Homo sapiens: one gene and its partners. The protein of the gene in region 2 interacts with the protein of the main gene of each other region in a pairwise test. Each region holds a gene or a part of one and is shown on either strand. Other genes may lie near its edges. The genes, in order: ZFP64, LMO2, HNRNPC, NOTCH2NLA, ARHGEF5, IKZF3 and EIF4EBP1.

Region 1 (3,500 bases), on a different chromosome or scaffold from region 2:
ATAAAAGAAAAAGACAAAAAAAGAGACAGTTTCTTTTCTCTCCCCTTATTCCTCTCTTTACTAATCATTACACACACACATATGAACTCGTAGGGTCATCTCCTCAAAATGAGAATATGTGCGTTCAAATTTTAATTAATTTTGGCAGAATCATTTTCAAAATGGCTGTAACAGTTCACATTCCCACTTAGCTAAGTTTGCTCACATCCTCTCCAGAGCTGGATTTTATTATGTTAAAGATTTTTCTGCCAAAGTCATGTGTACAAATGGCACCTTATTTTTTAAAATCTGGACTTGTATTCCCATAACAGCCAGTGACGTTTGGAGTGGTATCATTCGTCTGACCTATGTGGATCCCCATCTCCTAGCACAGAGCAGGTGTTGAGGGCATATGCGCTAAAGAAATGCTACTTACCCGTGTGAATTTTTAAATGCCGCTCCATGTCCTTCATGCCATAAGCAGTCTTGAATTGGCAACCTAAAAAAAAAAAGGAAAGATTAATTACAAAGGAAAACTTAGTAACTTTTAGCATGGAGAAAACTGGTAGAAACATCCTTAACCAAGTGACAAGAGTTAACACCACGGTAATGGGAAAAAGAGATCTCATGTGCCTTCATATGTGATGACCGGGAAAAACACACCGTCATTTTGTGGTTCCTGCCAAAACTGCATAACCTGAATCTGATCATAAGGAAACATCAAATAAACCCAAACTGAGGCCCTTTTGACAAAAATCACTGGCCTATACTTTTCAAAAATGTCAAGCTTATGAAAGATAAATGCTTAACTGTTCTTGATTAGAGGAAATGAAAGACATAAAATCTAAATGCAATTAGTGATCACTGGTTGGAGCCTGGATCAGAGGGGAAAAATGTCATTCTTTTGATATTGGTAGAAAGGACATCGGTGGGACACTTGATGACGAAATCTGACTAAGGTCAGTAGGTTAGATAATAGTTCCTATAAATGTTAATTTTCTGATCTTGATGATTGTCCTGTGGTTATTTAAAAGAATATTCTGGTTTTTAGGAAATACACACTGAAGTATTTAGGAATAAAGGGGCATCACATTGTCAGCAACTTTCAAATGGTTTGGGGAAAACTATACTTGTATATATATTTGTATATATACAAAGAATGACAAAGCAAATATAATAAAATGGTAACATTTGGGGAATCTAGATGAAGGGCATACAGGGATTTTTTTGGTACAATTTTTGCAACTTTTCTGTACATCTGAAATTATTTCTGAATAAATTAAAACCAAAGTAAGGAAAGAAAATTCTTACTGGATATCTTCCTAAGCTATAGCATAGGAAAAAAATTTATAGCAACCTGAAATTTTCACGAGTTCCACTTCAAAGGCCTATGGCTAGAAAAGTCTTAGAACCCAGAGGCAGAATGACCACAGACAGTGGGAGATAGGTTGTATGTGCTGATGTAAATGCCAGGGGGCTCTGATTTTTATGCCAGGTAGTTTGGAACACATCCATGAGCAGTTGTCAGGAACTCATGAGGAGGAGCCCTGGAGCCTGGTTAAATATCACACCCTCTACACAAGTAGGACATAATGCTGCCTTTACCTGGATAGCAACAGTTAAGCCTTTTCTGAGCAGGTGGTGTTGTGGGCTTTTTGGTGCGTGACTTGGCAGGGAGAGAGATGACAGTGGCTGTCTGGTTTTCATTACTTTCCGTGGGCAGGTAAGTTTGATAGCCATGTTCAAAAACAAATTCTGGAGCTGAAACTAAAAGATATGGTGATTATTAATTTTCTTAATATAAATGCCCGCTAGCTATGGTGTCTGCCTACTTTCCTTTGTAGAGAGAATGCATGTACTAGTTTGCTTTCCCAGCCTCCCTTGCGGCTTCACAGTGATCATGTGACCCAGTTCTAGCTAATGAGACACTAGAGAGCATCCGCTGGGAGACTTCTGCAAAAGACTTTCCTCCCTGATTTAAAATAGCATGGGGGGGCAGGGTGGGCAGGGCAGATGGTAAAAGAAGCAGTTGAGAAAAGCTCATCTTGCTGCCCTGGCTGCCCTACTTCCTGTCTTTGTATATGCTGGAGTGATGATGTGATGCCTGGATCTGTGGCAGCCATTCTGTAACCATAAGGGTAAACATGGAAATCAGATGCTGAGTCAGAGCTCTGAAGCCACCCAAATCTATACTTTTTTCTTTTTTTTTTTTCTGAGATAGGGTTTCATTTTGTCACCCAGGCTGGAGTGCAGTGGCATGATCACAGCTCACTGCAGCCTTGACCTTCCAGGCTGGAGCAATCCTCCCACCTTAGCCTCACAAGCAGCTGGGACTATAGGCATGCACCACCATGCCCGGCTAATTTTTGTATTTTTTGTAAAGACTGGGGTCTCGCCATGCTGCGCGGGCTGGTCTCAAACTCCTGAGCTCAAGTGATCTACCTGTCTCTGCCTCCCACATTGTTAACTACCATGCCTGCCCTAGACTTCTTAAATAAACAAGAAATGTCCCTATAATTTATGTCCCTATAATTTATGCCAGGTAAGATTTCTGTTAACTGCAGCCAAATGCATTAAGTGCTTTCATAAGCTATATGACAAAATCCTAATGAAACACCAAAAAGGAACGATAGAAGGGATTTGGGGCAAAATTAGTCTAATTAACATTCTTCTCAGCATAAGTATTTCCCCCCCTCAAAAAATTCCTTGTACTCTTACTGAGGTTCTGAAGCAAAAAGAAAAAAAAAATAGCAAAACACAGACTAAATATAAAATATAATTGTAGGCTGGGCGCTGTGGCTCACAGCTGTAATCCTAGCAGTTTGGGAGGCTGAGGCAGGTGGATCACCTGCGGTCAGGAGTTCGAGACTAGCCTGGTCAACATGGTGAAACCCCATCTCTACTAAAAATACAAAAATTAGCTGGGCATGGTGGCGGGCACCTGAAATCTCAGCTACTCTGGAGGCTGAGGCAAGAGAATTGCTTGAACCTGGGAGGCGGGGGTTGCAGTGAGCCAAGATCGTGCTGTTACACTCCAGCCTGGGCGACAAGAGCAAAACTCTGTCTCAAAAAAAATAAAAAATAAATAAAAATAAGTAAATAATAAATAAAATTGTAAAAGATAAGATAGGCAGTCTCAAATTTTTTTGTTGTAAAAAATTAAGTGACTACTTTGTTAACTACATTTATAGTCTGGGACTTAGGCATGTTTCCTCCCTCCCTTCCTCCCTCCCTTCTTCTCTCCCTCCCTTCCTCCCTCCCTCCCTCTTCCCTTCCCCTCCCTCCTTCTCCTCTTCCCCTTCCCTCCCTCCCTTCTTTCCTTCCTCTCCTCCTCTTTCTTTTTCTGGTTCTTTCTTAGAATGTACTTTGTCATATGAAGATTGGGTTTCAAATAAGAAGTAAATATGACCAATGGAGGCTTGTTCATTGGATGAACCTGTCAGGCTAAGAGGCCCTAATGATGATTTTGAGAGCCGCTGTAATATTCTGTTTCCCAAACTTCAGTCACTCAGACACCACCT
Region 2 (3,500 bases):
GGAACTTTGGCATCAGGGCGCAGGGATGGATTCTAACGGTTTCTTTGCTGGTTGAAGAGGCTGCTTCCTGCCGACTTCTTTTTTTTTTCTTCTTATTCTTCACTTACCAGCCCAGCTTGTGAATGTGAAGGAGTTGTCCCTTTTCCAAATGAACAGGACTGGTGTATCAGGTGGCCTTGCCATTGTATGCACCTGCCGGTCTGAGAAAGCAAGTGTTCTGTCTGTATCTGCAACTGTTTGTGTCTCACGCTTTGCAAATCTCTTATCCCTCTGAGTCTCAGAAATCCCCCATGAGTGAAAAAGGGCAGGTAGCCTGGTGCCCATTTGATAGGAGAGGAAATTAGGCCAAAGCCCTTTCAAATCTCAAACATGCCTAAACTAGAGAACTGGATGACCCTTGTTCCTTAGACTCGGGCATTCTTGCTCACAGGAATGTCTTTTGAAAATTTATTTTTCAAGAGGAAGAGCTTCATGAGGCAAAAGCCAACACGCAGACACCGTATTACCTAGCGGCATTTATTGGATTTGTCTCTTGAGTGATTCAAACAAAAGATTACGGTTATAAATAGATAGACCTAATTGTGGCAAACAATGCCTACCTTTTATTGAGCACTTATTATGTGCCAGGCATTTTAAATACTTGATCTTATTCAATCCTGATAAGAAACCTCCTGAGATCAGTAATATTATTCCAATTTTACAGAGGAGGAAAGTGAGAGAGAAATTTCAATAACTTTCCCAGGGTCATACAGCTGCATAAATGTAGGAGACGGAATTTAGACCTAGGTCTTCTGACTATGCCCTCACCTCATTCACTATGCCAGTGTTTCCCAAATTTCCTACGTTTGCATGTTAGGAATACATATTCTTAGGCCCACACCCAATCTCCCAGATCAAGGGAGAAACCTCAGAAGGCCTTTCCCTGGATACCTGATCTAAAAAATAGCCTCCTCCCCAGGCACTAACACACCGTTATTTAATTTTCATCATTATATTTGTCACTACTTGATATTTTCTTATTTGTGTATTTGCATATTGTCTTTCTTCTCCACTAAGGGATGAGTTCCATAAGTGCAGATACAAGATGTCCAACGTTTTAACTTCTAGAAACTGACCAAGGGGGATGGTACCTACGAAGTACTCAAAACATATTTATTAGATAAGTTAGTAGACACTGTCCAAAGTATTGTGTTAAGAAGAATTGTGAGTCTGGACCCAGGTTCTGGAGAGAAGATGAGAACACTGGTGTGTGTCCTGAGGTTTCAGGATGGGAAAGTGTTGGCACATAGGCCATGTATTTGCCATCCCAGAGAAAGAAACTCAGTCTCCCCAAAATTAAGAGGAAGATGACACAGAAAGTCAGTAGGAGAGCCAGGTAAAATGCAATCACTTCTTTCCAAGACCTTTATCTCTTACTTGGAAGTCAAAATGAACACATTTGTAATGGAGAAGAAATCCATGGTCAACAGTGAGGTGCTGATCAAAACTGCAATCAGATTGGATTAGGGAGAGATCAGAGTGGATGGACATCAGCATGGAAGGCTTTCTGGAGGAAGCAGAAAATCGAGTTGCCCCTTGATGAGCGATTATCTGGAAACTTCCTTTGTTGTCAGGCTTGTACTTTGAGCTATACATAGAGTGTTTTTTAGGCCCTTGCAACACCCTAATGAAGTAAGTATTGTAATCATAATTTTATGGGTGATGAAACTGAGTCACAGAAAGCCTACAGAACTTGCTCCAGCTCACAGGGCTACTAAGGACTGAGTAGGAATTAACAGCCGGTGATTTCAATAATGGTTTTCTTAACAGAGCAGGTGTGTCTGGTAGGAAACAGCCCAAGTAAGGGTCTGGGTATGGGGTCAGTTGGAGGAGCTGGAGGTGCAGTTCACAGGTAGTAATGAAGTCAGCTGGTTGCAGAATTGGACCATAACAATATTCCAGTGAAAGGAACCAGATCTGCTGTTCTCTCCCATTTAAAAGCCTTGGATGCCAAAACGCACCACACCTGACCCGGTGATCACAGGCAATTCAAAGGTGTATTACTTATGCAGGCATAGGCAGCGAGGGAAGCCACTGGTTGAGGGCCCCACTGAGAAGAGGACTCCCTGACTTCTGGGGAGGAGAAAGAGCCTGGTGCTGGGGACCTACGTAGATATAGGACAGGGGCCCACCTGTTGAATAATGCCGAGAGGAGGTAGTGGGGGAAGATTAATTTTGAGTGATCTGCTCCATTGGGGGTCAGGCTGGGGGTGGTCAATCAAAAAGAGTAAGGGTGAGTTTTCTTGCATATGATTACTAGGTGCTGCAGAGGTGAGTGGGGCTGAGTGGGTGGTGAGGGGTGGGGTGCCCTGATGGTTTCTGCCCCAGTGGGTGTTAACTATTTGGACAAATGACATTTTGCTGGGAGCAACTTTTTGCACTCAACTCAATTTCTTCAAAATTCACTCCCTAACATTTGGTTCACCATCCAAAGAGCTAATATACTTGTATATAGGCTGTACCAATTTTACATAGCCAGTGCAGTATGTAAGTCTACTTGTGGGCAGGAGGGCTCCTAAAACAAGGTCACCCCAGGCTACAGGGGACATCCAAGTCCTAGGGAGTTCAGAGTACCACATGTAGAATTTGGTTTCTGTTTGGTGGTACATCCATTGGGCTATTTGGATTACTTTGCCTTGCAATATTTATCCACGTCCAGCAGGATACACTATGCCCTCTGAGAGCATATACTCCTTCTGGGAAGCTGGCATATCATCTGGAGCTAGTCTCTTATCTGCCACCCTGGCAGTTAGGGGTTTTTGCCCTTCAGTGAAAGCTTCCAGTGCTGCTGTTTTTTGTGTTACGTGGGCTGATAGGACCTCGGATCTTTCTCTGAAGTATCTGCTAGTTTTCCTGGTGTGATCATATTGTAAGACCTTAGTCCCACTCTTCTGGCCCCAAGTCATGCTTATACCCAGGACAATGGGTAGGAAGACTGCCCATCACCTCTGACTGGGGACTGTGACCAGCAGGGTTAAATTGCAGAACAGTCAGAAAAATGTGAAGGGGGTTGTCAGACTTAGCAGTGTGCAGGTGAGTTTAGGTATTTGGGACGTCAGGAAGAAGTTATCTAGGAGTGGAACAGGTGAAGCAGGTTCCCTCTGGGGCTTCCAATCTCTTGTGTTCCTTTAATATCTGGGGTGGGCCATGACACTAGTTGTGCTGTGTGGGCCTAGGAAGATACAAGCATAGGCATGTATTTATACATTTGGATAGATGTATGATCTGGACTCATGAGCCGGGGACCAGACTGGATAACATCTGAGCCAACATAGGACAGGGCAAGACCTAGGAGCCTAGACCAGAAGTGTTTGGTGTTGGTGGTTTTGTGGTGCAAATAAGGGAGTGGCCTGCTCATGGGGGCAGATAGGAGGCCCAACATTGCATGAGGTCCAGCCACTGGGATGTGGCTTTATCTCTGTGTACATACAAGTTAGCCCGGAGATAGCCTTAGGCAGTAG
Region 3 (3,500 bases), on a different chromosome or scaffold from region 2:
TTTTCAAATAGTACTCAGATACTTAATAAAACATCTTATACTTGAATGTTCCTTGAATACCTCCAAGATGTTTAAAATATTCTTTTTCCCACCCTCAAACTATAATCTGCTCCCTTCATTCATTCCCCAATATCTATCCCTATCCCAGAAGCTAGAAACCAGCAATCATGCCAAATCTGTGTTCTTGTCCACCTTATCACATCCATCCTGAGATGCTCCTAATTTTACCTCCTAATCTCTAATCTCATAGCATTACCTTTGTCCAAGCCAGGTCGTTATTCTTTCTTGGATTTTAATATCTCCTTTATTAATCTCCTACTTCCAATCTCATTTCCTCTACACCATTTCCATACTGTTATTAGAAAGACATTCCTAAAAATTAAAATCTTCCAGGAGTTTTTGAGACCAGCCTGGGAAACAAAATGAGACCTGTCTCCACCAAAAAAAAAAAAAAACAATAAAAAATAGTCAGGTGGGCCGGGCGCGGTGGCTCACGCCTGTAATCCCAGCACTTTGGGAGGCCGAGGCGGGCGGATCACGAGGTCAGGAGATCGAGACCATCCCGGCTAAAACGGTGAAACCCCGTCTCTACTAAACATACAAAAAAATTAGCCGGGCGTAGTGGCGGGCGCCTGTAGTCCCAGCTACTTGGGAGGCTGAGGCAGGAGAATGGCGTGAACCTGGGAGGCAGAGCTTGCAGTGAGCCGAGATCGTGCCACTGCACTCCAGCCTGGGCAACAGAACAAGACTCCATCTCAAAAAAAAAAAAAAAAAATTAGCCGGGCATAGTAGCAGGTGCCTGTAATCCCAGGTACTCGGGAGGCTGAGACAGAGAACTGCTTGAAACCAGGAGGCAGAGGTTGTGGTGAGCCAAGATCACACCACTGCACTCCAGTCTAGGTGACAGAGCGAGACTCCGTCTTATTTAAAAAAAAAAAAAAAAAAAAATCCCTTTATGTGATTAAGGTAGAAGGAATAAATTTATAAATTTAAAGTTATAAATAAAAATAATAAAAAAAGGATTCCCTGACCTCTCAGGGTTAGTTAGGTAACCATTTCTGCATGCTTTCTTTTTTTAAAAAGAGATGGGGTCTCGCTGGGTGCGGCAGCTCACACCTGTGATCCCAAAACTTCAGGAGGCTGAGGCGGGTGGATCACCTGAGGTCAGGAACTTGAGACCATCCTGGCCAACATGGCATCTCTACTGAACCCTGTCTCTACTAAAAATAGAAAAATTTAAGGCCAGGTGCAGTGGCTCATGCCTGTAATTCCAGCACTTTGGGAGGCCGAGGCGGGCAGACCATGAGATCAGGAGTTTGAGACCAGCCTGGCCAACATGGTGAAACCTCGTCACTACTAAAAATACAGAAATTAGCCGTGCATGGTGGTCCGTGCCTGTAGTCTCAGCTACTCGGGAGGCTGAGGCAGGAGAATCGCTTGAACCCGGGAGGTGGAGGTTGCAGTGACCCAAGATGGCACCACTGCACTCCAGCCTGGGAAACAGAGCGAGACTGTCTCAAAAAAAAAAAAAAAAAAAAAGATGGGGTCTCATTATGTTGCCCAGCCTGGAGTGCAGTGGATAATCACATCACACACTACAGTCTCTCAAATCCTGGGCCAAGGGACCCTCCTGCCTCAGCCTTCCAATTAGTTGTGACTACAGGCTTACAGGCAGGTACCAACGCCCCCAGCTTATTTTGGCATGCTTCTATAGGATATGTGTTTACCTCTCATCATATATGGACATTATTTCATTCATGTGTCTCCCTCACTAAGCTGCGAAGCCCTTAAACATAATAAACTATTTTTTATATCCCCAAACACAACATGTCCCATAAAAATAATAAATTTGTAGAATTAACAAGGAATAAATCAAACTGAACCTATAGTGAACAGCTTCCGTACACTGACAGCAGCAAAGAAGAAAAAATAGCTCTCATACAATAGAGAGCATCAATAAAACTTGCACTTATTTAAAAAATAAAGATTCCCATTCTTTTTCTAGATAACTTCCAGGAATCTTTTGCTTTTTCTCCCATTCTGTTTTGAGTGTACCTCTGGTGTTCACTTTAACTAGATTTCACTTTTCATCCGAGTATGGTATAAGGGGGCAAGTTTGTGATTTACCCTAGTACAACAGTACCGAATATGCCTTCAAAAAATTATTCCAGGTTAGGTGCAGTGGCTCATGCCTGTAATGTCAACACTTTGGGGGTGTCAAGGCAGGAGGATCGCTTGAGCCCAGGAGTTCAAGACCAGCCTAGACAACATAGCGAGACCCTGTCTCTACAAAAAATAGAAATATTTTAAAATAAAATCTAATTATCTCCCAGCTTGAAACCTATCAGAGCAACTCTAAAATGGTTATCAAAACATTTTGCTGCAGTGAGTAAAATACTACGGGTTGCTCAACTTCTCTTTGGCTATCCACATCTTTACTAATCTCTACACCATTCCTGTGAATAACACAGAATACACTCCTTCTTAACATCAGAACACATTAGAGTTCCTAATCTAGCATTAGAACTCTATGAATTCACATTAGAATTCCCAAAATCTAGCTGGGTCTTGAGTCACCACTGTAAAAGGGGTCAGCCTTAGACAGTTCCTAATTTGGATGTAGAGGTTAAACAGATTTCCCTGCTTTGTGAGGTCAAAAAGCCTACCTTTTTTCAAATTTTTAAAAGCCCTCCAGTGAGACAGCATTTTAATATTATGTTGTATCTCCTATGGTTTGACTCTTGTGAAATATTAATGAGATAAAAAGTCTAAATAGAATATAATCCAAAAATGTCACAAACCCAAGGAATATGTTAAATGACAGAAAATGTTTACTGATTTGTAACAATCTAAAAAAAGGGACTCCCCAATATGTTTTCTTGTTGCTAATCATTAAAACAAGCCACTTTCATTTTAAACTTCAGCTGCTCTTTCCAAGTATCCAAAATGTTCTAATCAGCCCAAGTTAATTAGCAACTCATATTATTCCATTAGTTTACAAATAACTGAGGTGGTCCCCCTTGGGAAACACCTCAAGATGCACACACAAAAGTTTCAAACACTTCCAGATGCTATGACCTATACACATCAGCTAAACTGTTAAACGGGTTTATTTCCTAGTCTTTGTAATGAATCCAAGTGGACCTCACACCTCTTACCATCACCCAGGAAGGGTGTGCATCTGTTCCGAAGGCCCCCCTGGCTCCAGGTCATCCTGGCTGCTGCTGCTCCAGGCTGGGCATCCATGTTGCTGCAGCTTGTGGTTTGTGAGGGGTAGTGTACAGGAAAAGCAGGATGGGATTTCAAGGGAAACAGGAGGAAGATGGCTTTCAGGGAAAATGCCATCACGATCATAAGTGTTAAGTAGTACCACACACATTTTATTGCAGCACAGTTTAAAAATTTAACAAATGAAAGATTAAAAATAAAAAAACAAAAATAAAAAAAATTAAAAATACAGACGTCCAGAGATGCTCTAAAACAGTTAAGTTAAAGATCAG
Region 4 (3,500 bases), on a different chromosome or scaffold from region 2:
TTTGGTTCACCTGGATTGTAGTTGCTGACTTCAGGACCTTTAGAGAATGTTTAAATTCAGTGGGATATGCTTGGATGGTTCAGAGCAGCCTTACAATACATTTTAAAAATATCACACCCACAGAAATTCTATTTTGCCCACAAAATTTGCATTGATCTAGTTCCCACTCTGTGTTGCCATTCCTAGTGATCCTCCTCCCTACCTCTCCCATTATGGTAGAAAAAAACTCTGTGTCCTGGCTACATCAAAATCTGTTGGGGTGGATCTTGGACTCAGCACCCAGGGATTCTGATAAGGTAAGTTTGAGAATCCATATTTTTTCAAGGTTTACAGGTGATTCTGACAAGTAACTTGGTTGCAACCCACTGATTAAGTACATTTTTTTTTTACCTTCAGGTGTGTGTATGAGGTCTTTCTAAATTTAAGAAATTTCCATAACAAATGTAACCTTAGTCATTCCAGTGTTTAACACTTCTGACTCAAGAATTTTAAAATTGCTAACGTAAGAGATATAGAATATAATGTCATTTCTTCTGTTTATCTGGGTGCAGTATGTCTGCATTGACCCTTTAGAAGGGCTTCATATATTTAGATGATATAATAAATTCTCTACCTCTCCTTTTCCCTTTTCTTCTGTTATCTCTTTTTCCTTAAATGTCATTCATACATGTTGTTTTTTGACCCTTTATCTATATACGTCTGCAATGATTTTAGAGTAAAAAACTGCAAGGCGTGATTTGAATAAGGATATAAGAAATTTTACATCATTTTCTTTATATTGTGTTCACAGTCCATAGTTACATGCTTCCTTTCTTGATGTCTCAGTTCGAATGCCTAAATTTGAACTATTAATTTTCCTTCCACCCTTTCCTGATTTTCCTGTTTTTGTTTCCCCCCCTTTCTCTGCAAATGACTTGAAACCAAAAGGTCTTCTTTTCTTTCTTTGTCAGTCTACCATATGTGTAGTATTTTGGACAGATCACTGAACTAGGAGCCAGAAGACCAGAATTCTTCTCCAGGTCTGTTATTAATTGGTTTGGTGACCTTGTAGGAGAGCCACTGTTTTGGTCCTCCATTTTCTGATGTTCATTGTTCATGGTCACAGAGCCAATTAGAGTTGAGACTAGAATTCCTTTCTTCTGGTGTCCAGTGCCTCATTCACTGTCCACATTGCTTCCATCTCGTGTACAAATGCGCTTATGTGCACAAAAACTCTTATAACATCCTCAAGTGCTTATTGTTAATGCGTACATGAGGAAGGAATCGTGTATTTTCATTTATGTGTTTATTCTAATGCCCATACCCTACCCCTGTACCTGGCATGATGCCTTGGTATCTAATAGGCACACAATAAATACTTGTTCAGTCGAACAATTATTTTTAGCCACTTTCTTATTTTGGACAACTGTGGTACTCCTAGACATTTTAAAAATAGTATTTGCAGGAGTCATGCTTACCTTACATTTGGGGAAAAACCAAATTTTTCCCTTCCCCAGATGTTTCATTTAAACTTGTAATTTTGAATTTCTTTGTGTGTGGGGTTTCTTTCTTTCTTTTTCTGATCACTTCTGCAATTTATAAAGGTCACTTTGACTTTGGAATCTCACTTCAAAGGCACTGCCATCCACCCCCTGCCTCTCATTCAAGTTTGCTTCCACTGCTTCCTGTATTACTGTATTACTAGGCCAGCAATTTCTGTTATTTTGTCCAGAATAGCCACACCTTATTGTAATTTCATCATTTTGGGGACTAGTCATTTTTGGAATACTATTTTTAAAATTAGAGTTAACTAAGTTTATATTTATTTTGATAATTTTTTTTGAGATTTTTTTCATTGAGTTGGATATTGCAAACTTGTACTGGATTGAGAGAATATGTACATTTAGTAAAGTATATTTGCTTTTTTTTTTTTGAACCAAGAGAGTCCCCTGAACACCCTACTGACAAAAACTAAAGGTGAAATATGATGAATAAATATTTGAGAGAATCACATGGTGTTGAGTTGTCTCTGCCACATGATTTTGATCCTTGAGGGCCAGGTCTGTGCTACACACATTTCTTCTCTGTACTACAGAACTTGTCTGGCATGTGCCCCAAATTCAGAGTCAACTGAGCGGCAGGTCTTAGTCACAGCATCTGTGACTCCTGCTTTCCCACCTTTAGAACATTCTATAGGAGAGGCTGATGGTGAGTTGGAGTGTGTTTCTATGTTCTTTTTTCCTTTGAAGAGATAGGATCAGTTGAAAGCTGACCCCACCCACAGACTTTTTTTGCTATCTCTTTTAATTAATTAAGGAGTGGCTGAAATTTTCCTCTTTGTTGACTTATGCATTGGCGGGAACTTTAAAATTCATCTAGTCTTTCTGTCCATCCCATGCTGGATCTGATGTTTACAACATTCTAGTCAAGAGGTACCATATTTTCTCTCTTCTTGAACATCTCTTGTGGTAGACAGCTCTCCACAGCAGTTTATTCCATCTTTGGCCAGCTCTAATTCTTAGAAAGATCTTCTTATATTCAGCTGTAATCCATCTCCTCATGACTTGTCCTCATTGACATCTACTCAGAAATTTGTCTCAGAGTCCTGAGACCTGTGCAGGTGATAGGGACCCAAAGAGATGCTTGTCTGTAGACTTTACTGAGCTGACACCCAGCTCTCCATAAAAGGAGTCAAACCCAGTGAGGAGCATGTCTGGGGTGATTGCTCAGGTAAAGCATCTTAGCCCTACTTGTTTCATACCTCCCTGCACAGGTGGGCACTGGTGGGAGAATAACATTTATCAAGCAGTGTTTCCCTAACCTCTCTTATGATAAGAATAGCTCAGGTGTTCTCATGGAGATTCTGATTCAGTGCATCTGGAATGTCATCTGGGAATTTGTGTGTTCAAGAAATAGCCAGGTGATTCTTACATTAGGAAAGTTTTAGAATCACTGCAGAGTGAATCTGGGAAATCAAAGTGTTTGTTTTTGTTTGTTTGTTTTTTGAGAGTATTAGAGACAGGTTGCTTTGGCTAGATCCTGTGGTCATTTTTCCCCCTTGGAAATGCCTCCTACTTGCTGGCCTCACTTAGTACAGAGAAGAAAGCTGCTATGGTATAAGGTTAGTAAAGTTGTTTGTTTTGTCTTAAAAGAAATTTGCGAAATCCAGCATTTTCGGACTTCTGTTTGTGTTGTATGACTTTGTTGTAAGCCTCCTTATTCCTCCATTAGAATGTTACCTGAGATGTTAGAATGCATAGGAGTTCCACAGCCTTTTTGGTGTCCACTAAAGAATTCTGTCCTCAGCCGTTGCAAATGGTGCTTCCTTTGAGGATTTCTGCTTCATTAGCTCATGAACACATATTTGGTGTCGGCAGTTTCCCTCAGATGTGTTAGTGTGGAGAGATATAAAGGTCACTCATTTCTGGTGGTCCTGCTTTTGGGGTTTCTGGGCTGCTGCAGCAAATGAAATAAGGAAAGGAAAATAAAGGAGGAATCTAGGGCTTCTTGAGCAGAACAAA
Region 5 (3,500 bases), on a different chromosome or scaffold from region 2:
TTATTTTCTAAATATCTTCTCTGTGCTTAAAAATTTGCAGCCACAACAGGGCTCTCAAGTCTGAACTTTGCAAAGTCTAAAAATGTATTCTCTCTCTGACTTGGTAAAAGCATTGTCTGTCCATAAGTCCTCCTGGCCCAAATTTTACTCCTCCCTGCCTCTGAAAGGCAGAGAGTACGGCACTAATATTTATCAAACTATACATCAAATATTACTGCTAAATTAGATATGCATTATTTCATTTAAACCATTCAGCAACCCTGAAAGGTAGGCATTATTATCCTCAATTTGCAAGTGAGGAAACTGAGATTTAGTGATGTTATAAGGCTGCCTAAGCTAGCAAATGGTGAAGTCATGTTTCAAACCTAGGTCTGGCTTACTTAAAATGAAAAGTCAACATTTTTTGAGAAATTACTATGTACCAGGCATTCATGTTTCTTGATCCTTGCAGTAACTGTTTGTATCTCAGTTTTACAAATGTCATTTGGCCAAAGGTAAATTGGAAATATTAAAGTGGGCTCTGGGGCTGGGCTCAGTGGCTCATGCCTGTAATTCCAGCACTTTGGGAGGCCGAGGCGGGAGTATTGCTTCAGCCCAGGAGCTCGAGACAACTGGGCAACATAGTGAGACACCATCTTTTCAAAAAATTAAAAAATTAGCTAGGCATAGTGGCACATACCTGTAGTCCTAGCTACTTGGGAGGCTGAGGCGGGAGGATTGCTCGAGCCCAGGAGGTTGAGGCTGCAGTGAACAATGATTGTACCACTGTACTCCAGCCTGAGTGACAGAGCAAGACCCTGTCTCTAATAAATTAATAATTTTAAAAAAAAGTGGTTTTCATATCCAGGTCATTTCTTCCAGAACCTAATTTCTTAAACATTATTCTATTCCATTGTTCCATACTGTCTTTCTGGGAAGAAAGGTTTTACCCCATATTTCAGACAAATTAATAAGAGGCGCTCTCCATGTAAAACTTACTAATGGTAATAGCTTAGAATCAGACAAACAGCCTCTAGTTCAGTCTTGCTGTTGGGAGTAACAATCAAGCAGGGACTGATGATCACTCTAAGGCCCCTGTTAGATTGATGGACCACAGGACAGCTGCAAAGGGCCCTCTTCAAGGGACCCAACAAAGAGCCCCGGAATGTGCCTTGGCTAAAGAGGAAAACTGTAGTGTAGCCTGAAACCCTGGTTGAACAGGGAAGCTTTCCTCTACCCTGAAACAGCAGTGATGATGGGATTAACTCCACATTCCTCCACACAAATTCAGAGGCAATGGCCACCATGTATAGCCCAGACCAACATCAGGTAGGAGCAAGTGGCCTATGGCATGAGGAGGTGAGGATGAAAGGGGAGGTGGTGAAATCCAGAAAACAATTCAACTTCTTCAGAATGGACATGACCCACAGCTGTGGCATGTACACGCGCCTGTGTGGTGGGGACAGCCGACTCTTGGTGGCAGTGGTGAGCAGGAGAGAAGGATGCTAGCAAACAAGACCTTGTCATCTTTTCTGTAGCCCCCTCCCCACCGTGGCCTGCCCAGTACCTCTTGCAGCTTTTGGTCTTCATGGGTCATGGAGAGCAGCACGGTGCTGTTGCGCACCACGGGGATTTCCTGCCAGAGGGAGCCGCTGGAGGCCATGGAGAGCCGCTGCAGGTACGACTCGGAGGAGACCAGGGCCTTCCGAGGCTGCCGCGGAGAGCTAGGCCCGGGTGTCTCGGACAGGCTCTCCAGCCGCTGCTGGCTCTGGATCTCCTTATTCAGGACAACATCACTATACTCCTGGTAAAGCAGCTGGGCTGCAGGGCAAAGAAGCATGGGAAGGAAGAGAAGCAGGAAGAAGGGACGGTGAGCGGAGGCAGGGAAACAGATCTTCTGCAATGCCTTCTCGCTAGGGACATCCCCACCCCACTGCTGACATCCACAAGCCCCTCTCCAGTGCTGGGCAGAATGCCCACCTGGTTCTATAGTTCCACTTCAAGGTACTCACAGGAGTTGATGAGTTTGGAGCAGCGTCTTGAAAAGCCTCCCATCACCTCCTTTGGTTTTTTCTCCCTGTGGAGTAAAGAAGGGCTCTGGGGTACCTACTGGCCATTAGACACAGAGCACCCCAGGTGACTGTGGGGGACAAAGTCTCTAGCCTCTGGGATGTGTGCTGGGATGTCAAGACCAAATCCCCCGGAGAGGCACAGAGTTGCAACTTGACCCACTTGGGCTAACATGGAGCTTTTGTGGGGTTTAGTTCACAGCCATAGGGCTTGGGAAGATGGATGACTCGTAGGCTCGGCTGACCGAATGAGGTAGATAAAGACAATCTCCCTAAGCTGGCATCCCGGCATCTCTCTCTTCTCCTCCTTACACCAAGAAGAAACAGGAATGAGCCATTCGGGGTCTCAGAACCCTTATCAACTGAAATCCTCACTAGGGGACTCTCAGTATCCCAAGTGAAGAGAGTACAGTGTGGCTGTTAGGGGAGAGGGTGACTTACCGAAAAACAACAGTGTCTGAGGGTCCCGGATGTTTCTCCACGGCTGGACCTCTTGAATCTAAAAGTGGAAATGGGGAAGATAACTGAGATTTCAGAGGGATAGAGAGAGCCAAAGAAGATCTAGAGCAGGAGATGCAGGGGTCCAGAAGGGAAAATGGGCTTTATTGGGAAACTGGGAGGGAAGAAAGTGGCAAAGCAGAGAGCGTGAAAGAGATCAGTACCAGTGACGTCCCGAGCCACGGGTCAGGATGGGACTGGGACAAGTACAGAAGGCCTTTTCTACTCCCCAGGAGGAGAGCAAGCAGGGACTGTAACTGAAGAGTAGAAGGGAGTCCAAAATAACCTTGGGACATCCAAAGAAGGTGCTGGTTGAGGGAGAGACAGGGAGATAGAGGGGAAGAAGAAGGAAGAGCATCCCAAGGAGCTTGGAGGGCACTTCGGGGCTCTCTCTGTGTTGAGGTTAGGCACACATGTGAGCGAAGCCAGCAGAGAGAATGTTAGGAACCCTAGGGACAGAAGATGGGATGAGGTGGGAAGAGCTGGGAAAAGCTTGGTCTGATGTGTCACTGTGGTCCCGGTTCTTGCTCACCTGAAGAGCCCTCAGGCAAGATGGAAGGTCTGCGCAGGCCCTGCCGGCTCCAGCCCTTGTGCTTGTTGGCCCCCTCACTAGGAGCCACAGCCTGTCCACTGCTGTCCCCTGGTGGCCTCCCTGAGTCCCGCCTGTGGGGCCAGCTGGACGCCTTCTCCAGGTGCAGATGGCTGGGTTTTTCTGGCTGCCTTGCTTGGCCCACAGGTGACCTCCCTGGGCCACTGGCTCCTTGCTGAGGGGTTGTCCTTCTCAAAGGTTCTCTCGCAGGGGCCTCAGGGTGTTCTGAGACCCCTGCTTCATCCTTAGAGGTGGGTCCCTGGAGCTCCGGAGTCCAGGGAGTGGTAGGGGAAGAGGGGCATAGGAAGTTTGTCATGTTGCTGAAAGCCATGCCAGGGGACACTTCGCTCTTACTCCTGCTGGTG
Region 6 (3,500 bases), on a different chromosome or scaffold from region 2:
TAGTTACCACCGATTATAAAAAGATCCCCAGCTACGCATGGTGGCACATGCCTCTAGTCCCAGCTACTCAAGAGGATGAGGTGGGAGGATCGCTTGAGCCCAGGAGTTTGAGACCAGCCTGCAATGTAGAGAGACCTCATCTCAAAAATTAAAAAAAAAAAAAAAGAGAGAGAGAGAGATCCCTAAACTTTGGAAAATAACAGTCTAGAAGGGGCTATAGGTGTATTAATCAACAAAATAAACAAGAAACTTAGTTGCATAATCCTTAGATAATTCAGAGTAGAAAAATAATAGTTTTGTTCTGTTTCATGAGTGACAGTATTGAAATGTTTTCCATTTCTTATTTTAAAAGTTTCCTTCATTGGCTGGGCATTGGTGGCTCACATCTGTAATCCTAGCACTTTGGGAGGCCAAGGCAGGAGAATCTTTTGTGCTCACGAGTTCAAGACCAGCCTGGGTAACATAGCAAGACTATGTCTCTATTAAAAAAAAGGAAAGAAAGAAAAGTTTCCTTTGTAAACCCACAATAACCTAATCTGCCAAAAATTTCATCTCTAAGAACACTACTAAGTACAATTTGTGACATATTGCCAATTCCACTGTTATAAAAAATCACTCAGTAAGCTGATTTTAAGTACTGACAATAAGTAAAGAGTAATGCACTTTGTTTCATATCCATTACCAAGTACCTAGTTTTTTGTTTGTTTGTTTGTTTTGAGATGGGGTCTCACACTGTCACCCAGGCTGGAGTGCAGTGGCGCGATCTTGGCTCACTGCAACCTCCACCTCCCAGGTTCAACCAGTTCTCCTGTCTCAGCCTCCCGAGTAGCTGGGACTACAGGCGCCTGTAACCATCAAGTACCCAGTTTTTAAATATCTCCTGGATTGGACACATATCTAACATAATATTTTCATATGGTATTGGTATTTAATATAATACGGTAATTCCATATTATTTTCATTTACTGTATACCACTTTGGACTTACATTTTTTGTTGTTGTTGTTGAGATGGGTTCTCACTCTGTTGCCCAAGCTGGAGTGCAGTGGCGTCATTACAGCCCACTGAAGCCTCAAACTCCCAGGTCAAGCCATCCTCCCACCTCAGCCTCCCAAGTAGCTGGGACAAGTGCACACCACCACACCAGGCCAATTTACTTTTATTTTATTATTATTTTTTATGAAACAGGGCCTCACCATGTTGCCCAGGCTGGTCTCAAATTCCTGGCCTCAAGAAATCCTCCCACCTTGGCCTCCCAAAGTGCTGGGATTACAGGTGTGAGCCACTGTGCCCAGCCCTTAAATTTTTTAAGTAACTTTTTAATTAAAAAAAAAACTTTTAATTTTGGATGCAAAAACCAGATTTCAATTAGACTGAAAAAATAACCTCATTCAGAATCACTAGGGATAAAAGTATTTTGATGAGTTATATAGTAATATTAATTAATAAAGTTATACACAGATTACTTTTCAAACAATCTATATATATTATAAATAAATTATAATTATTGTTTCATTATTGCATCTTTTTTTTAGTGATCCAAAAGGCCTTGGTGTCATCCTTATGATTTTTTTTTTTTTTGAGACAGGGTCTTGCTCTGTTGCCCAGGCTGTGGCATGCTCATGTCAGTGCAGTGGCATGCTCATGGCTCACGGTAGCCTCGACCTCCCAGGCTCAAGCCATCTTCCTACCTCAGCCTTCCAAGTAGCTGTTACTACAGGCATGTGCTACCACACCTGGCTAATTTTTGTAGTTTTTGTAGAGTCAGGGTTTTACCATGTTGCCCAGGCTGGTCTTGAAGTCCCAGGCTCAAGCAATCTGCCCGCCTCAGCCTCCCAAAGTGCTAGGATTACAGGCGTGAGCCACCACTCCTGGCCTCATCCTTATAATTTCTAATTATCATAAATATACCAGTTAATATGGAGCTAAATTTAATAAAGGCTAAATAGCAGAGTACATTCTATGGCCTTGTGATGTGTAGGGTCTCTTTTCAAAATAATTAATGAATCCTTAGGACAAAAGACATTTATTGAGCACCTACTATAGGCAAGTTTCTGTGTTAATCACTCAGTTCTTCTCATACATGGTCTGGAACTATAGCTTGACATATGAGCCAATTATCATTGGACATCTATCTAGGCCAGGTGCAGTGGCTCACTCCTGTAATCCCAGCACTTGGGAAGGTTGAGGCGGAAGGATCACTTGTGGCCAAGAATTCAAGACCAACCTGACCAACATAGTGAGACCCCCATTTCTACAAAAAATGAAAGATAATAAATCAGCAGGTCATGGCGGTTTGTACAATAAATTACCAGGTTATGGTGGTGGATGCCTGTAGTCCTAGCTACTCAGAAGGTTGAGGCAGGAGGATCGTCTGAGCCTAGGAGTTTGTGGTAGCCTGGGCAACAGAGCAAGGACTATCTCTTTAAAAATAATAATAAAAAAAAAAAACTGGATGTCTGATAAAAGATCTACCAATAATCAATAATCTTTTAGTCCTAAATAAGTGTAAGTATATACATTTATATATGAATGAAAAGTTTATAACAATGTATTTTTAAAGTATCACTTGAAAGCGTATGCTATTTTTATGGCATCATCTATATCTTACTGACTGAGAAAACAAATTTCTGCTCATATTCAATGGATATTTTAATGGACTAATTGCGATCCTGAAATCTGCTTATGTAAATTTAACAGTTAAAATTTGGCTTTACACAAAAAAGAATGAAATCATATCCTTTGCAACAACATGGATGCAGCTGGAGGCCATTATTCTTAGTGAATTAACACAGAAACAGAAAACCAAATACCGCATGTTCTCACTTATGACGGGGAGCTAAACACTGGGTACACATGGACTGTTATGAATTAATGTGACCCCCAAATTAGACACTGATGACCCCAAAATGGGGAAGGGTGGGAGGAGGGCAAGGGTTGAAAAACTACCTATAGGACACTATGCTCATTATTTGGGTGACAGGATCAATAGAAGCCCAATCCTCAGCATCACATAATATACTTATGTAAGAAACCTGCACATGTACCCCCTAAATCTAATTTTGTTAAAATTGGCTTTAAGTGACAGTCTAGCAAAAAATATCCAATAACATTTTTGTTTTCCAAGCTTTCTTTTTCAATTATACAGTTTAAGTGCTTAAAAAATTACTGAGCTTTATCAAAGAATTACTAGCCCCAATCTCCTACTTTAAAAATTTATTTAAATAAAATGCATCACAATAAACATAATAAAAAGTACTTTTTCAGCACTATTTTAATTGAATGCAACAAATTCTGAGGGCCTTCTATGAACCAGAAACTGTCCTTCGCATTCAGTGTACAAAAACAAGACACAGTCTCTGTTCTCCAGAAGCTTAAAGACCAGAGGGGGAATAAACACCTACATCAATAAATAATTTCAACACAATGTGGTAGAAGTATACACAGAAAGGAGAGGCCCTTAGCTGAGGTGAAGGAACATGAGAGACTGGGTAGGGGTGA
Region 7 (3,166 bases), on a different chromosome or scaffold from region 2:
ACCTGTTCTTGTGCCAGTCTTCTCAGCTGTAAAGTGAGGATAACAGTTGTTCTACTTACCCACAGGATCAGAGTCAGAATCAAATAAGGACAGGCCCACGCTTTAGAAGCACTGTACAAGGCTGGGCACGGTGGCTTACACCTGTAATCCCAGCACTTTGGGAGGCCAAGGCGGGTGGATCACCTGAGGTCAAGAGTTCGAGACCAGCCTGGCCAACATGGTGAAACCCTGTCTCTACAAAAATACAAAAAAATACTAGCTGGGCATGGTGGCGGGCACCTGTAATCCCAGCTACTCGGGAGGCTGAGGCAGGAGAATTGCTTGAACCCAGGAGGTGGAGGTTGCAATCAGCTGAGATTGCGCCATTGCACTCCAGCCTGGGCCACAAGAGTGAAACTCCGTCTCAAAAAAAAAAAAAAAAAAAAAGCAGCAGCACTGTACAGATAGCAGCTGGTGTTAGTTACCAAACAGAGTTGAAAAAAGCTCAGACGGGGCCCAACTCTTGGCCCTAGGGCGAAGGTGGCTTTTATTTCCTCTCTTGGGGAAGGAGGGGGAGGGAGCTTTCCCAAGCACATCAACCTAAGGAAGGGGTGGTTGCGCCCCCAGCAGCGAGGGGCTGGAACTGCTGATCATTCGGAAGGAAGGGTTCGTTCTTGTCCACTTCCTGGCCCTTGGCTGCAGGGTGTGCTGGCAGGGGTCACTCCCCTTGGGGTGGCAGCTCCTGCATCAGTGGAGGCACAAGGAGGTATCTGCTGGTGTTCACGAAGAGGAGGGGGCAGGTGCCCTGAGTGAGGGAGAAAGGGCTGGGGTGTCCGACCCCACGCCAACGCCTGCCCAGTATGATCACTTTCATAAGGCCTGGCTGGTGGGACTCCTCCCAGGAAGGCCCTGAGGGGCCCCTTGGTAGTGCTCCACACGATGGCTGGTGCTTTAAATGTCCATCTCAAACTGTGACTCTTCACCTGGGGAGAGAGGGGACAGAGGGCCAGGTCAACAATGGGTGAATGCTTGGTATATGAGGCCATTCTTTCATTGCTATAAAGAAATACCTGAGGTTGGGTAATTTATAAAGAAAATAAGTTTTTTTTTGTTTTTTTGTTTTTTTTTTTTGAGATGGAGTCTCACTCTGTCTCCGAGGCTGGAGTGCAGTGGCCCAATTTCGGCTCACTGCAACCTCCGCCTCCTGGGTTCAAGCGATTCTCCTACCTAAGCCTCCCAAAAGAGTAGCTGGGATTATAGGCACCCACCACCACACCCAGCTAATTTTTGTATTTTTAGTAGACCCGGGGTTTTGCCATGTTGGCCAGGCTGGTCTCGAACTCCTGATCTCAGATGATCCACCCTCCTCAGCCTCCCAAAGTGCTGGGATTACAGGTGCGAGCCACCGTGCCCAGCCAAGAAAAGAGGTTTAACTGGCTCGCGGTTCTGCAGGCTGTACAAGCATGACGCCGGCCTCAGCTTGGCTTCTGGGGAGGCCTCAGGGGGCTTTTCGTCATGGTGGAAAGCAAAGCGGGAGCAGGCATGTCACATGGAGGAAGCAGGAGCAAGAGAGAGGGTGGAGTGGCGCTCCCACACTTTACAACAACCAGATCTCGAGAGAACTCATTCACTATCATGAGGACAGCACCAAGCTGTGAGGGATCTGTCCCCACGACCCAAACACCTCCCACCAGGCCCTACCTCCAACACTGGGGATTACAATTTAACATGAGATTTGGGCAGGGACAAATATCCAGACTATATCATTTCGTCTGACTCTTGTTGTTTTTGCTTTTTTCTTTAGAGACAGGGTCTCACTCTCTTGGCCAGGCTGGCGTGCAGTTACGCAATCATAGCTCACTGCAGCCTTGACCTCCTGGGCTCAAATGATCCTCTGGCCTCAGCCTCCCAAGTAGTTGGGATTACAGGCATGCACCACCATGCCTGGCTAATTTTAAAATTTTATGTAGAGATGGGGTCTTGCATTGTTGCCCAGGCTGGTATTGAACTTCTGGCCTCAAGTATTCATCCTGCCTCAGCCTCCCAGAGTGCTGGGATTTCAGGCATGAGCCACTGTGCCTGGCCACCAGCTGATGTTTTTAGGGGCCAGGGACAGCCCCTATTTTTTGAAAGTAGATAACTTGTTTAGTTTCACAGGCTCACAGCTGGAAGGAAATTAAGCTTGAGATGAATCATGCTGTGAGTCTTGTCTGATTCAGATGAAATTCTGGACTTTGAACTTTTGAGCTAGGACTGCAACGTGTTAAGTCTTTGGGGATATGGGGACCAAATTAATATATGTGTATATGAGAAGGACATGAGTTTGGGGGGTCCAGGGCTGGAATGCTATGGTTTGAAATTCATACAGAAACTTAATCCCCAATGTAACAGTATTAAGAGTTGGGGCCGTTAAGAGGTAATTGGGTCATGAAGGCTCTGTCCTCATGAATGGATTAGCCCATTCCTGGATTAATGGGTTACCACAGGAGTGGGCTAGTTATCACAAGAGTGTTATAAAAAGGCAGCTTGGTTCTCTCTCATGTGCCCCTCTTGCCCTGTGATGCCTTCCGCCATGTTATGATGCAGCAGGAGGCCCTCACCAGAAGCCCAGCAGATGCGGGCACCATGCCCTTGGCCTTCCCAGCCTCTAGAACTGTAAGAAATAAACCATTTTTCTTCATAAATTACCCAGTCTCAGGTATTCAGTTACAGCCATAAAAAAACAGACTAAGACACAGGCAACTATTGTCTGTCTTGTACTGTGAGGTTCCCAAGGTAATTATGAATCATGTCCTGCAGGCCCTGGGGAGATTAATTCTGCTGCTGTTAGCAGAGCCAGCCAAGCTGAGGTCCCTGCTGCTTCCTGTCTGGGCCTGGGGTACGGCCTTCCGGGTGAAGGGTCGGCGGGTTCCAATCTGATTATAGTTGCCCGGAAGTGCTTATGCTGCATCATCTTGCAGCAGAGAACTCCAACACTCTGCCAAGCCAGTCAGGATGCCACAAAGAGTGCATTCACTTACACCACTACCACAGTGGCTGCTCTAATTACTCGGGAGGTGGGGACAGCAGGAAGGACCCAGCTACCAAATGTCAAATCGGCAGAGACAACTGGCTGCATTGTTTCTACCTGCCTTCATGAAGATCCACTAGGGGACCAACAGCCCAACAGGAGGCATCCCGGATGTAT

Evidence for each region.
Region 1: the proteins of LMO2 (region 2) and ZFP64 interact in binary tests that used the Homo sapiens proteins (3 or more experiments, as listed by UniProt).
Region 3: the proteins of LMO2 (region 2) and HNRNPC interact in binary tests that used the Homo sapiens proteins (3 or more experiments, as listed by UniProt).
Region 4: the proteins of LMO2 (region 2) and NOTCH2NLA interact in binary tests that used the Homo sapiens proteins (3 or more experiments, as listed by UniProt).
Region 5: the proteins of LMO2 (region 2) and ARHGEF5 interact in binary tests that used the Homo sapiens proteins (3 or more experiments, as listed by UniProt).
Region 6: the proteins of LMO2 (region 2) and IKZF3 interact in binary tests that used the Homo sapiens proteins (3 or more experiments, as listed by UniProt).
Region 7: the proteins of LMO2 (region 2) and EIF4EBP1 interact in binary tests that used the Homo sapiens proteins (3 or more experiments, as listed by UniProt).

The regions. Positions count from the first base shown.
Region 1 is NC_000020.11:52,164,280-52,167,779, forward strand, and holds part of ZFP64 (zinc finger protein 64), read right to left. Parts: intron 1,747-3,500; coding exon 1,585-1,746; intron 479-1,584; coding exon 416-478; intron 1-415. UniProt on the Homo sapiens protein: May be involved in the regulation of mesenchymal cell differentiation through transactivation of NOTCH1 target genes.
Region 2 is NC_000011.10:33,882,077-33,885,576, forward strand, and holds part of LMO2 (rhombotin-2), read right to left. Parts: intron 201-3,500; exon of another isoform or gene 108-200; intron 1-107. UniProt on the Homo sapiens protein: Acts with TAL1/SCL to regulate red blood cell development. Also acts with LDB1 to maintain erythroid precursors in an immature state.
Region 3 is NC_000014.9:21,259,443-21,262,942, forward strand, and holds part of HNRNPC (heterogeneous nuclear ribonucleoproteins C1/C2), read right to left. Parts: exon of another isoform or gene 3,152-3,500; intron 1-3,151. UniProt on the Homo sapiens protein: Binds pre-mRNA and nucleates the assembly of 40S hnRNP particles. Interacts with poly-U tracts in the 3'-UTR or 5'-UTR of mRNA and modulates the stability and the level of translation of bound mRNA molecules. Single HNRNPC tetramers bind 230-240 nucleotides.
Region 4 is NC_000001.11:146,222,522-146,226,021, reverse strand, and holds part of NOTCH2NLA (notch homolog 2 N-terminal-like protein A), read left to right. Parts: intron 1-3,500.
Region 5 is NC_000007.14:144,365,402-144,368,901, reverse strand, and holds part of ARHGEF5 (rho guanine nucleotide exchange factor 5), read right to left. Parts: coding exon 3,079-3,500; intron 2,548-3,078; coding exon 2,490-2,547; intron 2,057-2,489; coding exon 1,992-2,056; intron 1,801-1,991; coding exon 1,547-1,800; intron 1-1,546. UniProt on the Homo sapiens protein: Guanine nucleotide exchange factor which activates Rho GTPases. Strongly activates RHOA. Also strongly activates RHOB, weakly activates RHOC and RHOG and shows no effect on RHOD, RHOV, RHOQ or RAC1.
Region 6 is NC_000017.11:39,857,813-39,861,312, forward strand, and holds part of IKZF3 (zinc finger protein Aiolos), read right to left. Parts: intron 1-3,500. UniProt on the Homo sapiens protein: Transcription factor that plays an important role in the regulation of lymphocyte differentiation. Plays an essential role in regulation of B-cell differentiation, proliferation and maturation to an effector state.
Region 7 is NC_000008.11:38,057,700-38,060,865, reverse strand, and holds the end of EIF4EBP1 (eukaryotic translation initiation factor 4E-binding protein 1), read right to left. Parts: intron 963-3,166; coding exon 931-962; 3' UTR 501-930; downstream 1-500. UniProt on the Homo sapiens protein: Repressor of translation initiation that regulates EIF4E activity by preventing its assembly into the eIF4F complex: hypophosphorylated form competes with EIF4G1/EIF4G3 and strongly binds to EIF4E, leading to repress translation.